4 separate regions of the Homo sapiens genome follow, and all the other regions are reported to be linked to region 1. The links are microRNA targets in miRTarBase. Many come from high-throughput screens and were not tested one by one. Region 1 holds a microRNA gene; each other region holds the end of a gene's coding sequence.

What was found. The annotated mature microRNA hsa-miR-6871-5p reads CAUGGGAGUUCGGGGUGGUUGC and lies in region 1 at 1,718-1,739, opposite strand. An mRNA with a match to its seed (bases 2 to 7 or 8) in the 3' UTR can be bound and repressed. Matches are read on the target gene's strand: a 7mer-m8 pairs with bases 2 to 8, a 7mer-A1 pairs with bases 2 to 7 and ends in A, and an 8mer does both.
Region 2: miRTarBase lists IDS as a target of hsa-miR-6871-5p. Seed matches in the 3' UTR shown: 7mer-m8 at 1,134-1,140.
Region 3: the mRNA of CCNB1IP1 is a reported target of hsa-miR-6871-5p. The part of its 3' UTR that is shown has no 7-base or 8-base seed match.
Region 4: the mRNA of TIGD5 is a reported target of hsa-miR-6871-5p. Seed matches in the 3' UTR shown: 7mer-m8 at 3,165-3,171.

The regions. Positions count from the first base shown.
Region 1 is chr20:41,166,618-41,170,766 of GRCh38, reverse strand. MIR6871 (microRNA 6871) reads right to left here and starts at 1,744; the gene lies at 1,689-1,744. PLCG1 (phospholipase C gamma 1) reads right to left here. Exons shown (of 32, transcript NM_002660.3): 19 at 3,908-4,088; 20 at 2,838-2,915; 21 at 1,897-2,000; 22 at 1,592-1,688; 23 at 1,241-1,310; 24 at 498-655.
Region 2 is chrX:149,479,186-149,483,185 of GRCh38, forward strand. IDS (iduronate 2-sulfatase) reads right to left here. Exons shown (of 9, transcript NM_000202.8): 9 at 1-4,000. The coding sequence ends at 3,561. Among named protein-coding and RNA genes, the nearest start is that of IDS, 24 kb to the right of the region's middle.
Region 3 is chr14:20,308,057-20,312,056 of GRCh38, reverse strand. It overlaps CCNB1IP1 (cyclin B1 interacting protein 1), which reads left to right. Exons shown (of 7, transcript NM_021178.5): 7 at 305-687. The coding sequence ends at 507. Among named protein-coding and RNA genes, the nearest start is that of TTC5, 4.1 kb to the right of the region's middle. RefSeq lists a silencer at 2,980-3,180.
Region 4 is chr8:143,599,064-143,603,063 of GRCh38, reverse strand. TIGD5 (tigger transposable element derived 5) reads right to left here. Exons shown (of 1, transcript NM_032862.5): 1 at 1-4,000. The coding sequence ends at 3,232. Among named protein-coding and RNA genes, the nearest start is that of TIGD5, 3.2 kb to the right of the region's middle.

The sequences.
Region 1 (4,149 bases):
ATCGTTCCTGTCTTTACCTCTGTAGCTCTCAACACAGCAGACCCTCTCCCTCACCAGTGGCCTGCAGTCTGTCTGACCTGCCTTTCCTGGGCTCCTTTCCTCGCCCATGCCTTCTCATATGGAGCTTCTCAATCCATCCCAAGTTCTCTTCCTATGCGACACCACCTCATCCCTTCTATGCCTCAGCCCCCACTCCACTCCTGCTTCCAGCCCAGGACTTCTCCTCTTACCTCTGGTCTTGTGTATCCAATTGCCCACTAAGCAGACCCACTTCAACGACCCATCAGTATCTCAAACTCAACACAACCTAAACACACCACATTGCATCTTATGTGTCTGTTTCTTCTCAATCCCTAGCTAAGGCAGGGGCTGTGGCCTATCTAGCATAGGCCATCGGCTGCCCCACTGCTCTGAGGGGGCCTGTGCTGGGAGCTGGAGGCCTCAGCTGCCTGACGGGCCCACACACTGCCCCCCAGAAGGTTCCAGCAGAATCTCACCCTGGCGTCTGCTGTCTGGGCCACTTCACGGATCTTTTTCACCCAGTCCTGCAGCTCCTCCTGTGAGTCGGCAGCAACATCCAGGGACCAGTGGGCCACCGACGCCATGCTGATGGAGAAGACGAAGAGCCGGTTGTTCTTGCCCTCAGGACGGATGGCTGGGAGGGCGAGAGCAGATAACAGCTGGGAATAGACATCTCACCCCCTCCACCCCACTCCACACCGCAGGCACTGGCTCAAATGAGTTCTATCTCATCCCATTTCCTCCTTCCCACACCCCATGAGGGGAAGGACTACTCTGCTGGCCCATTTGACAGATGACGACGCTACAACTCAAACAAGTCACTGCTGGTTGTGGTGGAGCCAGTGTTCCAACTCAGCTCTGACTCATGCTTCTTCCTCAGGCCGTGTCTCCCTCTCCACCCCATCTCCAAGCCTCTGTCACATCCCTGTGGTACAACCCATTAGGCCTGGGGATGTCAGCCAACCAGCAGCATCAACTTTGTTCTGCTGATTCTGACGGGTTCCCCAGTGCCTGGCATAGGTAAACATGCAGGGGTCAAAGCTGACAGTGACAAAGGGAGCCCAGGGTGTCAAGGGGATGTCCAGAGCATGGGGAGAGCTTGGAGTGAGGGCAGACTTTGGGGTTCAGCCATCAGCTTCCTCCCTAGGAGCAGGAAAGAGATACAAAGAAGAATCTCACCCTAGGGAACAGTGGGCAAGAGAAACAGATGGGAGCTCACCAATCTGACAAGCCGGCACATCCAAGACCCCCCGCAGCAAGTCCCCTAGGGGGCTGTTCTCGTCCAAGTGCTGTGGGAAGCAAAGCCCACCAATGGTCAGCATGGCTACTGCATATGTGTGTGAGGGGATATCCGTGTGCATGGGACAAATACATCTTGTGGGTGTACCTGTGACTGCCAAATGTAGCACAGGTATATGGGAGACTACGTGCATGGCCACATGGGCTGTGCGACCAGCCCATGTGACAGGTGTCTGTGCATGCACGTGCGTGCTTGGGACTGTGTGATGGGGGCATGCCAAGGAGAATCTGGGAATAGGGAATGCTGTTACTCAGGTGGTTCTGGTCTTACCTCCCTCTCCGGCTCCAGGGCCACGGGGTTGACCATCTCTTCCACGTAGTTTGATGGGAACCACAGCTGCTTCTTCCCTCCGTAGTCCCCTCGCCACCTGTGGGAGCCACAGGGTGCTGACCTCCAGCAACCACCCCGAACTCCCATGAGGAGGGTATCCTTTGGTAGGGGTTCCCATGCCTAAGCCAGGGTGAGGCAGGCACTGCTGGTGCACACAGGAGACAAGCACATCACAAATGCATGTCTTTGGGGCCCCAGCTCCACTGGGGCCCTTGGACTCTGGGCCTACCACACCACTGGCTTACCAGCCTCCCTCTTGCTTCTCCACATTCTGGATGATGGCGCTCTTGATGAAGGTCAGCTCGTCCTCCCTCTGGGCCTTGTAGTCAAAGAGGGCTTTGACTGCACACTGCAGAGGTGAGAAGCACCAGTCAGAGCAGAAAGGCTCTCCCTGCCACTGCCAACCTGGGGCTTCATGTGCACACACACATGTGCTTGGGCTTCCCTGCCTGGGGTCAGGCCAGTGGGAGATGACACTGCCATCAACAGGCCCTAGTTATAGTTCTTGTTACTGCCCTGCAGGGAAGCTCCAGGACAGATATGATCAGAGAGGCAGGGCCTCTGCCAGTGAAATACCTCGGGACCCAGGTGGAACCTTAAGCCCCACCCTGGGCCACAGGGAGAACCTTGAATCCGCTCCCAGGAGTCAGGGCTGGCAGGCCAAGAAGGCAGGGTCTGCAGTGGCCCTGAGTGCCTCCCCGGGACCTGGAAGCATATGGGGCCTGGATGGGACCCTACCACTCATCTGTGAAGTGGAAAGAAAAACTTCCTTCCAGGTCCCCTGGCTGTGGAGGGGAGGGGGTGAGAAATAGGGCCCAGGCCTTTTTAGAGAAAAAGGCAAAACAAAAAAGAACCTGTGTAACAGGGCTCCATGAGGCCGGGGAATGAGTGGCCAGTGTGCCTCCCAGCTCCTACCCCGCTGCTGCCCAGGAAGGAAACAGGGGTCACCCACAGGAGCAGTTTAAAGGGTCACTGCTGACTTAAGGGGTAGGGGCTAGGGAGTGGGTCGGCCCTGGGAGACCTGCGGTCGCTCACCAACCACACATCTCTCACAACCTCTTGGGCCTCGGAAAACCACAACCACCACTTCTCCACAAAGACCACAGATGGCCCAGAACACAGAAATGAAGCCCCAAGCAGCTGGGGACCCTCCCCAGCTTCCTATGCCCAGAGGCCTGAGCTGTACCTTGAAAGTTGGCATAGGGTTTGCCTCTACATAGAAGCCAGGGTTGCGTCCCTCATACAGGGCCCCGTAGTCAGGCTCCTGGAAACAGGACACAATGGGATATGTTAATGCCCCAGAGCCCAGAGGTAGAAAGCAGCTACTGGTTTCTGGAGCAGCTTCCCTTTCCCCCAGTGCAGCAAACTTGCACCTGATCCACAGGGATCCTTCGACCTCAGTAGAGACGGCTTCAGAGGCCTCAGGCCCGGCCTCACTGTTCCCTTTCCTTTCTTCACATTCTTACATGTAAGGCCCAGCCCAGGATTCTAAAATCTCTCAGGTCCTAAATGCCCAAACTCCCAAGTATTTCTGAGCTATGTGCAGGTGGGCCCTTCACAGACTACCCATATTCAGTGCTTTAGTTCAGTGGCTTGTTGGTTCACTGCTGAGCCCAAAGTCAGGAAAAGCCTTCCCACTCCCCACATTCCTCCTGCCGCTCCTCTCCATCACTTGAGTCCCAGGTGCCAGTGGACAACAGGCCTCTCTCTCCCCAGCCAGCCCTGTCTACTGACGACAGCAGTCTCTCAACTGATCTTCTGGTCCTAGACCCCTTCCTTCTGTCCAGGGCCCTTATCACCAGCTGTGCTGCCATGGGTCCTGACTTTTTCCCTCACTGGTCTCACCTCCTGTGGCTCTGCCCTCCATACCATCCACCAGGCGGAGGCTCCACAACCACTCTTGGGTAGCCTCATCTCATCTGCCCTAGGACAGAGTCCAGGCCAAGCCCAGGTGGATGAGTTTCCACTGTGTGCACCTCTCCCAGTGTGAGCCCCAGAACCTCCTCACTCCACATCTTGACTCATGAGGAACCCTCTGCTTATGTGCCTGTCCCCATCCTTAAAGATGCTGCTCAGATGTCCCCTCCTGCAGACACCCTCCTGGTACCCACACTGTGGCTCCCAGCTGGAGTCAGGGGCCCTCCCACGAACTTCTACAACACACCAGGTCTTGCTGTTACACACATCCAGAGACTGGTAAGATTCTGGGTCTCTCCTGCCTCCCCTGCCATGCCCCGTCTACCACAGCCCCCTCACAGCTGTGCCAATCTTCTCCAGTGCCTCCTCGTTGATGGGATAGCGCAGCTTCATCTTGCGGTATAGCGGGTGTTTCTCATAGTAGCTGATGAGGTCAACAAGGCTGTCGAACTCCGAGTTCCCTAGCATCACTGTCTGGCCCTCTTGCTGGACACGGCAATGCTTGATCTTGCCCTCAGCCCTTCACAAGGACAAAACAGTCACACAGGGTCAGGGCAGCTCAGACCCAAGCAAGGCCCCAC
Region 2 (4,000 bases), not on the chromosome of region 1:
TTTTGTATTTTTAGTAGAGACGGGATTTCACCATCTTGGCCAGGCTGGTTTTGAACTCCTGACCTCGTGATCCACCCGCCTCAGCCTCCCAAAGTGCTGGGATTACAGGCGTGAGCCACCGCGCCCGGCAAGAATTCAAAGTTAAAACAGGTTACCACTTTCACCTATTACCATCAGGTTGCTTATTTTTGTTTTATGTTTTTTATTTGTATGCATGTTTACTTTATGTTTCAGTTTACTACCCCCTAAGGCAGCAAGAGAGCAGGAAGATAAGCAAAATAGAGATGTTTTTGACAACTTGGCACTGAGAGACTATCCTAAGGGAATAATCTGAAATACATAAAAACATTTTATTCACAAAATTGGTCATCACAGCATTATTTACAATACTGAAAATCTGGAAATAGCCTAAATTTCTAACAATTGAAAGAAGGTTAAGTAAATTATAAGACTACACAATAAAATATATTACCAGCAATATATCTTTGTGAAAATCTATAATAACCACACATAATACTTAGTAAAAAAGAACATAAATTACATGATAAAGAATATGACCAGAACAATGCAAAAAATTCACACCCCCAAAAAAGACAAGATATTATATGGCAATTTTGTGGTAAAATATTCATGTATTTGTGCTGCATTTCTAATTTTTCCGTAACTGACACATCAGTTTTATAATTAGGAAAAAAATACCTTTTTAAAGTAAAGCGAACACAAGATTCTTTAGCAATGTTCATTCCATCCCACAATAGAGTCTAGAGAGTCACAAAAACCTCAGCCTCCTTCGGGAGGGGGGGAGCTTGGTAGTGAAAAATGGTCATGAATGAATGGGTGAAGAGAGGGATGGGACAACCTAGTAGGAGGGAGGTAGGGATAGGCAAGGGAAAGGTGGGGACCAGTAGTCATACTGGTCAGCCAAGGAAAGGGGCATTGTGGAGTCAGGGAAGACTCTGACTGCTCAACAGAGGTCTGTCTAGACCCAGTAGTAGGCACTGACGGTGTTATCAAAGGACAGGATCAAAGAGAGATTTTAGGAAGACACGTGGATTATTTTAGGGACAGGGGAGGAAAGAGGAGGGGTGGGTAAACTACTTGGAAAGAAAGGGAGAAGGACTGAGAAGATGGCAATGGGAGTGGGGAGGAAGGGGCTGATTGCCTTTGTGACCTCACTACCAAACATACTTTGCTCACCTCCAGATAAGTCTTTGTGGGGCAAATGCAGGATAAAGAAACAGCTCATAAGAGGCACTTGCCAACATCCAACAAATTCAGTTCAAAACCACAGAAAATCTAGGAGTCTCCAAAGAAAATCACAGTCCTGCTGTGTTGCCGAGGCTGGAATACAATGGCACGATCTTCATTCACTGAAACCTCCGTCTCCTGGTTCAAGCGATTCTTGTGCCTTGGCCTCCCAAGAAGCTGGGATTACAGGCATGCACCACCACACCCGGCTAACTTTTGTATTTTTAGTAGAGACGGGGTTTCACCATGTTGGCCAGGCTGGTCTTGAACTCCTAACCTCAAGTGATCCGCCTGCCTGGGCCTCCCAAAGTGCTGGGATTACAGGTGTGAGCCACCGCATCCGACTTCTAACGCACTGGGTTTTAACAAGCCCCTCAAGTAGTTCTGATGCTCCCTCATGTTTGTGAGCCACTGAATGAGGGCCATGCAAAATGTCTAGAATCACTAGTTCTGCTGTCAGCTAAACCACATGAAAGAACCCCTGCTCATGTGAAAGAGAGATTTCTACAAATAAAGTGACGGGAGGACCACTAATAAGTTATGTCCAGCTTAGTGGGGTTGGGGAAAGGTTATATGAAGCAACAAAGATACAGTTTCTCTAAGCCAAGTAAAGGTAAAGAACTGTGGAGCAGGCAATAAAGCCAAATGCACTGAACTATGTCATAAGGAATTTACAGGCTGTATTGTAAAAGCCACAGTGAACATGATGACAGCAACAACGAGGATGAAGAACAGCAAAGAAAAAGCTGAGGGAAACCATCGACCAAAGCAAGCGGAGGCTCAAAAGAGAGACGAGCTTCAGGATCAGGAAATGAACAGGGCCCTTCAGTCACGGAGAAGTCGTTGTTGCCAGAACAGTCAGTCACTTAACTGCTTAGAAGATCACCGTGTTACCATATAACCTCTATTGTAGGCTAATTAATTTTTAAAATCTGTCTAAAATTTACTGATTTTAATATAATATCTTGTCATTTTTGGCAACAATACACTGAAGTAACAATGTAGTTTGCTGTATTTTGTTTCACAAATATTTACCTGGAAACACTGGAGACTTTGTAAAGAGAAAATTACTAAAAATTACTCCTTCACTACAGGACAGTAGATATTTAATATTTATTTAGAAAGCTATTGACACTTCTGATGACTACTGATAACTGAGAAGATTCAACATGTTATAAATATGAGTTGTAAATATTCCATCCCTTTTGAGATTATATACACTAAGCTTTTTACTACCACTGGCCTTTCTGGATACTTTCATATTTAGAGAATATAGAACTACATTCTGGGAGATTGACAATGACCTAATATTACACTAATGAAAAGTCTTCACAGTCCTCAAAATAATTTAGAATTTAATGTTTTCTTTAATAAGCAATTAAAATGGAATATTTTCTGCCTCCTGAATAAATACATGTCTGTAACCAACCATCCCTAAAGAAGGATACTAATATATTTTGAGTGATTCAATCCACCCATGGATATAGTCACATCTTTAAATGTTTTCCAGTGTGAACAACAGTCTTTTAATAGATGGCCATTGAGTTCAAGGGTCATATTATTTGCTAACAAATTATTATTTGGGCCAGAAAGTATCTGAAAAAAGTTTAACCAAATTTCCTACACATCTCATATCTCTAGTTTATTAAGCATTATTTATTATTTGGTGTAAAAATTCTACATTAATTACTTCATACATATTTTATCTTGAGATTATGAAATCCCATGGTCTTAGAAACAAAAGATAGACTTTAAGACACTGGCTTCTGCTATTTTTTTTTAACTTTAGATTTGAAAAAGAAACATGGATTACATGTTAACATAATATTTTGAATATATAGGGCTCATAAGATATATTATTAAATTATAAACAAAATAATCAGGAACTTAGTGTGGTGCCTAGTTTGATATATGATTACTTTTTGAAATGCACTAAATTCCACAAATAATGAAAGTATTCTTTGTGTATAATGTTATGTTTGGTTATTATGTATGGTCTTCGTATCCAAAGGTATGACATAACTTGAGTTTGTTTGCTTTGTATTTATTCAGTAAATAAGCCGTAACTGTTTTAAAAAGAGGGAAATTAAAAAAAAAACTGGTCCAATTACCAATTATAAATTTTAATAAAGACTAAACGAAAAGGTTTGGCTGTTACATATTCTCAGGCCAAATTGTTGATGCATGTTTGGATTAACTAGCCCTCAGGCTGCTTCCAATATTATGGGTAATCACAAAACGACCAGCTCTAACTCCTCCTCTCACCAGCTGGAAGGGAGCACATCACATTTGCCATCCATGGTTGGCAAAACTCAAGGCATCAACAACTGGAAAAGATCTCCACCTTGGGAATCATTATACATATTGTGATCCTGCAATGGGTCAGAATCCACAAAATACAGTTCCCCTGCATGGATGTCAGAAAAGTTAGCTAGAAATTCATCAGGATTGAAGCCAACCCACACAGTATACCTATAGTCTATGGTGCGTATGGAATAGCCCATGATCTTTATATCTTTTAAACTCGGCTTGTCAGAATTCCACTGAGGGATGTCTGAAGGCCGGGGATACTGGCTATAGGCAATCAGTTCACGGGGATTACCAGGGAGGTACGGATCCTCTTCCAAGTCACGGAATCGAAAATGCTTCAGAAGGTTCTTGCCTTCTCTGCACAGCTCAACGTGAAATGAAGGAACGGGGCAGCGAGGTGGAACCTGCAGTCCTGCAAGTCCAGCCAGCGTGGGAAAAAGAG
Region 3 (4,000 bases), not on the chromosome of region 1:
GTGGAAGTAGTTAAATGTTAATTTAATCAGATCTATTATCTGCTTGTCTTAAGCCTATGCTAATTGATATTGGGTCATGGTATATGCCAATATTTCAGTTATATTTTTTCTAGAATGTTTATTGCAATGTTTTTTTAAAAAAATTCTTAACCTGGGGTAAAAGATTTTATATGTCTGTTTTTTTCTAAGACAAATATTGGAGAAAAAATATATATTCATATATATATATTTGATGATTCCTCTGAAGTAGATTATATAGATAACAAATGAATAAAATTATGTTTTTCCTTTTTTTCTGCCCTAGGTAACAACTCCAAGTTTCCTTTGGATAATACACCTGTTCGAAATCGGGGCGATGGAGATGGAGATTTTCAGTTCAGACCATTTTTTGCGGGTTCTCCCACAGCACCTGAACCCAGCAACAGCTTTTTTAGTTTTGTCTCTCCAAGTCGTGAATTAGAGCAGCAGCAAGTTTCTAGCAGGGCCTTCAAAGTAAAAAGAATTTGAGCCACGCATAGTGTCACGCACCTGTGATCCCAGCTACTTAGGAGGTTGAGGCTGGGAGGATCACTTGAGCCCAGGAGTCTGAGGCTTTAGTGATCTAAGATCATGCCACTGCACTCCAGCCTGGGCAACAGAGTGAGACCCTGTTTCTAAAAAAAAATAAAGATAATTTAGCTAACTTTACAGACTGTTTCTATGTTCATCTTTAGTGATTTCATTTAGCAAATCTTTTTTCTTTTTTTTTTTTTTTTTAACTTTTTTTTTTAATTTTTATTTTTTTTATTGATCATTCTTGGGTGTTTCTCGCAGAGGGGGATTTGGCAGGGTCATAGGACAATAGTGGAGGGAAGGTTGGCAGATAAACAAGTGAACAAAGGTCTCTGGTTTTCCTAGGCAGAGGACCCTGCAGCCTTCCGCAGTGTTTGTGTCCCTGGGTACTTGAGATTAGGGAGTGGTGATGATTCTTAACGAGCATGCTGCCTTCAAGCATCTGTTTAACAAAGCACATCTTGCACCGCCCTTAATCCATTTAACCCTGAGTGGACACAGCACATGTTTCAGAGGGCACAGGGTTGGGGGTAAGGTCACCGATCAACAGGATCCCAAGGCAGAAGAATTTATCTTAGTACAGAACAAAATGAAAAGTCTCCCATGTCTACTTCTTTCTACACAGACACGGCAACCATCCGATTTCTCTATCTTTTCCCCACATTTCCCCCCTTTCTATTCCACAAAACCGCCATTGTCATCCCGGCCCGTTCTCAAAGAGCTGTTGGGTACACCTCCCAGACGAGGTGGTGGCTGGGCAGAGGGGCTCCTCACTTCCTAGTAGGGGTGGCCGGGCAGAGTCGCCCCTCACCTCCCGGACGGGGCGGCTGGCCGGGCGGGGGGCTGACCCCCCCACCTCCCTCCCGGACGGGGCGGCTGGCCGGGCGGGGGGCTGGCCCCCCCACCTCCCTCCCGGACGGGGCGGCTGGCTGGGCAGAGGGGCTCCTCACTTCCCAGTAGGGGCGGCTGGGCAGAGGCGCCCCTCACCTCCTGGACGGGGCAGCTGGCCGGGCGGGGGGCTGACCCCCCCACCTCCCTCCCGGACGGGGCGGCTGGCTGGGCAGAGGGGCTCCTCACTTCCCAGTAGGGGCGGCCGGGCAGAGGCGCCCCTCACCTCCCGGACGGGGCGGCTGGCCGGGTGGGGGGCTGACCCCCCCACCTCCCTCCCGGACGGGGCGGCTGGCCGGGCGGGGGGCTGACTCCCCCACCTCCCTCCTGGACGGGGTGGCTGGCCAGGCAGAGGGGCTCCTCACTTCCCAGTAGGGGCGGCTGGGCAGAGGCGCCCCTCACCTCCCGGACGGGGCGTCTGGCCGGGTGGGGGGCTGACTCCCCCACCTCCCTCCCGGACGGGGCGGCTGCCGGGCGGAGACGCTCCTCACTTCCCAGACGGGGTGGCTGCCGGGCGGAGGGGCTCCTCACTTCTCAGATGGGGCGGATGCTGGGCGGAGGGTCTCCTCACTTCTCAGACGGGGCGGCTGGGCAGAGACGCTCCTCACCTCCCAGACGGGGCGGCGGGGCAGAGGCGCTCCCCACATCTCAGACGATGGGCGGCCGGGCAGAGACGCTCCTCACTTCCCAGACGGGATGGCTGCCAGGAAGAGGCGCTCCTCACTTCCTAGATGGGATGGCGGCCGGTCAGAGACGCTCCTCACTTTCCAGACTGGGCAGCCAGGCAGAGGGGCTCCTCACGTCCCAGACGATGGGCGGCCAGGCAGAGACGCTCCTCACTTCCCAGACGGGGTGGCGGCCGGGCAGAGGCTGCAATCTCGGCACTTTGGGAGGCCAAGGCAGGCGGCTGGGAGATGGAGGTTGTAGCGAGCTGAGATCATGCCACTGCACTCCAGCCTGGGCACCATTGAGCACTGAGTGAACCAGACTCCGTCTGCAATCCCGGCACCTCGGGAGGCCAAGGCTGGCGGATCACTCGCGGTTAGGAGCTGGAGACCAGCCCGGCCAACACAGTGAAACCCCGTCTCCACCAAAAAAGTACGAAAACCAGTCAGGCGTGGTGGCGCGCGCCTGCAATCGCAGGCCCTCGGCAGGCTGAGGCAGGAGAATCAGGCAGGGAGGTTGCAGTGAACCGAGATGGCAGCAGTACAGTCCAGTTTCGGCTCGGCATCAGAGGGAGACAGTGGAAAGAGAGGGAGAGGGAGACCGAGAGGGAGAGGGGAGAGGGGAGAGGGGAGAGGGGAGAGGGGAGAGGGAGAGGGAGAGGCAGAGGCAGAGGCAGGGGCAGGGGCAGGGTAGCAAATCTTTTTTCTAGATAGGACTCCCCAGCTTCTCTGTGCTTTTAAGTCTCTGAAGTTGTTTTCACATTATCAACATAACAAACTCATTGGCAGTGGGGAGTGGTTTAGAGTCTGGTTTCTTTGTTTCTATTATTTAAAGCATAAGCATTTTATTAGTCTCAATTCCATTGTGAACTGCTGAATTTTCATCCCTAGTGTGAGAAGGTCACAATAGTATTTGTTTCAATAGATAACTCTTTCTCCCTGTGCTGTTTCTCACTGAGCTGTGGTGTTTATGCCTTAAGTACCTGTGTTATATGCTACATGTTGCTTTGAATTCTGGTATTTATGCATATCTGTATATGTAAGTATGTTAATGTACACTGATATTTTGCTGTATTTGCCAGTATGTTTATGTGAAAATTTTGGTCTTGGAAAATGGTGGGTGATGTGTAGCTTGTTATTTGGGTGTGTGTATTTATTTGTATATATTTATGTATTTACCTTCGTATTGTTTGGAGGTGTGCTTATGTCAGTGAACGAGAGTACAATTTGATGCATGTATGTTCAGTCCCTATTTGTATTTAAAAATAACTCACGTTGATGAAGTTATTTTTTAAAGTTAATTTTTTTGGCATTTACAGTCGGTGCTCTGTATCCATAGGTTCTGCTTCTGCAGATTCAGCCAACCATATATCAAAAATATTTGAGAAAAAATAATATAAAAAAATACAAATTAAAAACCAATACTATATAACAACTATTTGGATAGCATTTACATTGTAGGTATTATAAATAATTTAGAGGTGATTTAAAGTATTTGGGAGAATCTGTAGGTTATATGCAAATACCATGCCATTTTATAAAAGTGACATGAACATCCAAGGATTTTGGTATCCATGAGGGTTCCTGGAACCAATCCCCCAAAGATACCAAAGGAAGACTGTATTTTAAAATAAAGCTACTTCTTTACCTTTTTGTCAACTATTGCCTTGGGTTTACTTATTTAGGAATGCACTTCTGCAGAAAGTTTACCAATGTGTTATTGATCTCGAGATTGTATTAAAATAAAAGATTTATTTATTGTTTTCCTTTATTTAGTGAGTATTTCTGACTATTATTATGGGAATTAAATTGTTTATGCATTTATTTATTTAAAATGTAGAGCCATGATAGAAATTTGAAGGACATTCTCAGTAACTTTATGTCCTGTTAGAGGA
Region 4 (4,000 bases), not on the chromosome of region 1:
CCCATGGGTGTCTCAACTAGGTAGGTAAGGGGTTGGGGTCTCTGCAGGACCCCCCCGTCTGGGGGTGCTCCCCTTCCTTTCCTACCACAGTGTGATGTTTCATCCGCAGCCCAGTGGACATCGAGGGGGTCCCCCAAGCCTGCAGGTCCTTGGGCCAAGGCAGTGGCCTCGTCCCCCTGAAAACGCGGGTCGGGTGGTTTCAACAAAACCTGCACTCATCTTTCCCTCCTCAGCGCCTTCCCTTCTCCAGCCCCCACAAGCCCAGGAACTCTGACAATGATGCTGACACGGGGGTCACTAACTGGAAGAGCAGTGAACAGGAGCTGGGGGCTCTTGGGGGCCATCTGAGCTGAGGACAGCTGGCTGTACCTCCGAGGCCACAGGCACCCCCACCCACCCCTGCGCCTGCAGGGAATGTGCAGAATCTGCCAGAGCGGAGGCCAGAGCCCGCAGGCAGCCACGGCTGTTAGAGGAAGCAGATGCAGCCTCACCCCAGCCCACGTCTGTCACCACAGCCAGGGCCTGGCAGGCGATGGCACCCGCGCAGCTTTGGGAAAGAACACTTGGCCTCCCAAAGGGTTCTGCCACCCCTGGGGGCCGCTACAGCCACCAACCCTGGGGTCTTTCCATCACTTCAGACACTGAGCAGAACCCAGAGAGGGTTAGTGAGCTGCAGGTAGGGCTGGGACGGGGCCCCAGGTTCCAGCCCAGGGTCTCAGGGATCCATGGCTGGCACTGCCCACAGGGCCAGGCATGGGCAGAGCAGCCTTCTCAGCAGCGGGGCCCAGCGGCCAAGCCTCTGTCACACAGCACCCTGTGCCAGCATGCCCCGTGCTAGGGAGAAGATGCTTTTTAAGCCCTCTTTAGGGGGTATTTCCCGTCTAGTAAGTGCCAGCAGGCAGACCCACTCTTGACAGGCTCCTAATGTCCCCACCAGCGTGCACCTGCACTTTTTTTTTTTTTTTTTTGAGACAGAGTCTCGCTCTGTCGCGCAGACTGGAGCGCGGTGTTGTGATCTTGGCTCACTGCAATCTCTGCCTTCTGGCTTCAAGCATTTCTCGTGCCTCAGCCTCCTGAGTAGCTAGGGTTACAGGCACCTGCCACCACGCCCAGCTAATTTTTGTATTTTTAGTAGAGACGGGGTTTTCACCATGTTGGCCAGGCTGGTCTCGAACTCCCAATCTCAGGTGATCCACCCGCCTCAGCCTCCCAAAGTGCTGGGATGACAGGTGTGAGCCAACGTGCCTGGCCTCTTTTATCTTATAGCAAAAATTAGTGCTGCCTTGTTTATAGAAAGTGGCCATTGAGGGACTGGGGGACAGGCCACAGCCACCCCGATGAGAGGAGCGGGCCTGCCCTCACCGACACCAGCCTCCTGGGACCCGGGCCAACAAAAGGGCTGAGATGGGAAGAAAGGTTGGAAATGAAAGCCTCGCCAAAGACGCAGCGGCAATGAGTAGTTGGGCTGAAGGGCAGCGCCACGGGCCGCCCAGACTACAGACAAGGCCTGGCTATGCAGCCCTCACTGGCACCGCGGCCGTGAAGTCAGCTTCTCCTCAGAGCCCTGGAGGCAGGCCTGGCAGAGCAGAGGTGGTGTCCCCGCCTTGGGGGCCTGTGCCCCTGGGAAGGTGCTGGCCCAAATGTCTCAGGCTTTCTGCAGCCCATCCCCAGCAGTTCAGGCCAGAGGCTCTTCCTGCAGGTGGCGGTGGCCTGATGGGCTCAGCAGGCATGCCTGGAGCTGCTGCCCTGAGCTCTGCTCAGGGAGTCTGTTTCTTCTTCCCCAAATTTCCACGGCCTCCCTGAGCTCTCAGATTTTGAGATATAGATATATACATATATATGTATATATTTCTTCACTTGCGGGCAGTTCCAAGGAACTGTTTGTTCCTGGACCTGTATAAAGGTCACTTTTGGGGGACACCCTCCAGCTGCCCCACTGCCAAGCTGGTGCACAGCCCTTCCCTTCCCCGTGCAGGCCTCCAGCCTACCCCTGCACTCCACAACTCTGGGTTTTCAAGGTTCCCTCTCCTAGGAGGACACTGGGGGCAGATGGGGACGAGGGGTCAACACCTGGAGGCAAGCAGGCCAGCTCCCTGCCCCTCACACCAGCTCGGGCAGCATCTCTGCAAAGGCAGTTCCCACCCTACCTGAGGAGGCATGGGCATCCCTGGCCCCAGTCCAACCAGAAGGACTGTAGGTCTAGACCTGGCCAGAGCAGAACAGAACCAGGGTTTGACAGGCCCTGGGGCCCTTTCCTCCTTTCAAAGTAGGCCTCCCAGGAGCAGCTTGTCAGCCACATCCTTGGCAGTCCCAGGAGAGGCAGAAAAGTCTGAGGGTGGGGAGGAGAGCCCACAGAGGGTGGCACTGCGTATTGCCCTGGGGGCTAATGCCAGGGCCTGCTTCCAGGTAAGTCAGGTGGCTCCAGGCCCTGGGACTGGACAGAATGGTCTGTGGCTGATGAGGAAGCAGGGGAAACTCTCCTGCCGTTGGCCAAGTCACCAGGGCCCAAAGCCAGGCAGCTGCCAATCCCACGGAATAAGAGATCTGTTCAGTTTTCTTAGGGAAAACTAAAAATCCAAGGAAACGGAACTCTACACCTCCCTGCTGCACCCAGAACCTAATACAGGGCTCCACCCCTCCCACTCCACAGTGATGCTCCAGTACCTGGGGCCTCTGACCTCCAGAGAAACCGCAGGGCGGCCCGAGACCAGCCCACCCGGCCCCTGTTCTCACGGCCCCTCTGAAGAGTATCTTTAAAAACAGATTTAATGTGTTAAAAAAAAATAGAATCAAGTGGTGTGCTTCGCCACTGAGATGATTGTGCTGTGGCTCCGGGGCCACATAGCACCAGGGCTCGATAGCAGACAGGAGTTTCGGCCCTCGTCCAGTGCATGTGACTGGTGCAGGGGCGGAGGCCCAGCCCCACGGGGGCCAGAGCAGGAACACAGCCACCTGTTCCAACAGGCGCTGTGCCTTGTATGCCCCGTACATGTGCCTGCCCTGAGAGGAGCATGGGCCAGGCCTCTCTTCCAGCTGTGCCCCCAGGGTGCCAGTGAGGCAGGGCGACCTCTCACCAACAGAGCTCCTCCAAGCCATGCTGGATTTGGATTCCTGGAACCCCCTGTACCCATGCGGTGGGCCACCCCAGGGGGAGGGGAGGAGAGATGGGAGACTGTGTGTATGTCCCCTCCCTCCAAGTGCAGCAGGAGAAAGGTCACTGGGCTGGCCTGGTCACACACCGTCATAGGGGCCTGCTGGGGTATGCCCGATGCCCCCCAGCCTCCGGGCCATGCTGATGAGTGAGCGCAACTGCACCAGCCTCAGTGGCCCCACCTCTCTGGGGTCCTGGTTCTCCAGCCACCGCAGAGCTGTTTCTAGCCCCCGCACGGCCTCCCCGGCAGTCGGCACTGAGGTCCCTCCATAGTCGGTGGCCTCCTCCTCGTCCTCTCCGCCCCCCATGGCAGAGGGCAGACTGGCTGGGGCCGGAGGCGCTGCAGGGGGCAGGGCTGGGCCCACCTCCTCCCTGCAGCCCTCGGGCGGACCCCCATCATCGTCCAGGTGCAGCCACTCCGCAACCTCCTCCGGAGCCAGGCACTTGTAGGCCAGAGCCGCCAGGTGGGTGAGGTCGCTGAGCACCCTGCTGTGCTCGGCGGCTTCCTCGGCCTGGGCCGGCTGCCCAGCACTGTCCTCGCCGGGCCGGGGCTCGAAGGCAGCCCGCAGGCCCAGCAGCCAGCAGCGCTCAATGCTGCCCGCCTGCACCAGGTCCCAGGAGAGGCCAGCCAGGTAGAGCATGTCCTTGAGCATGAAGCTGCGCATGAAGTCCAGCGGGGAGCCGCTGGCGCAGGACACAGCCAGTCGCAGCAGCTCGCGCTTGTACAGCTGTTTGAAGGCGGCCACCACGCCCTGCTCCAGCGGTGCGGGGATATGTGCCCGGCTGCTGCCTTTGGACAGGAACAGCACCCGCACAGCGCCATCCGGTGTCTGCAGCTCCTCCGGGGGA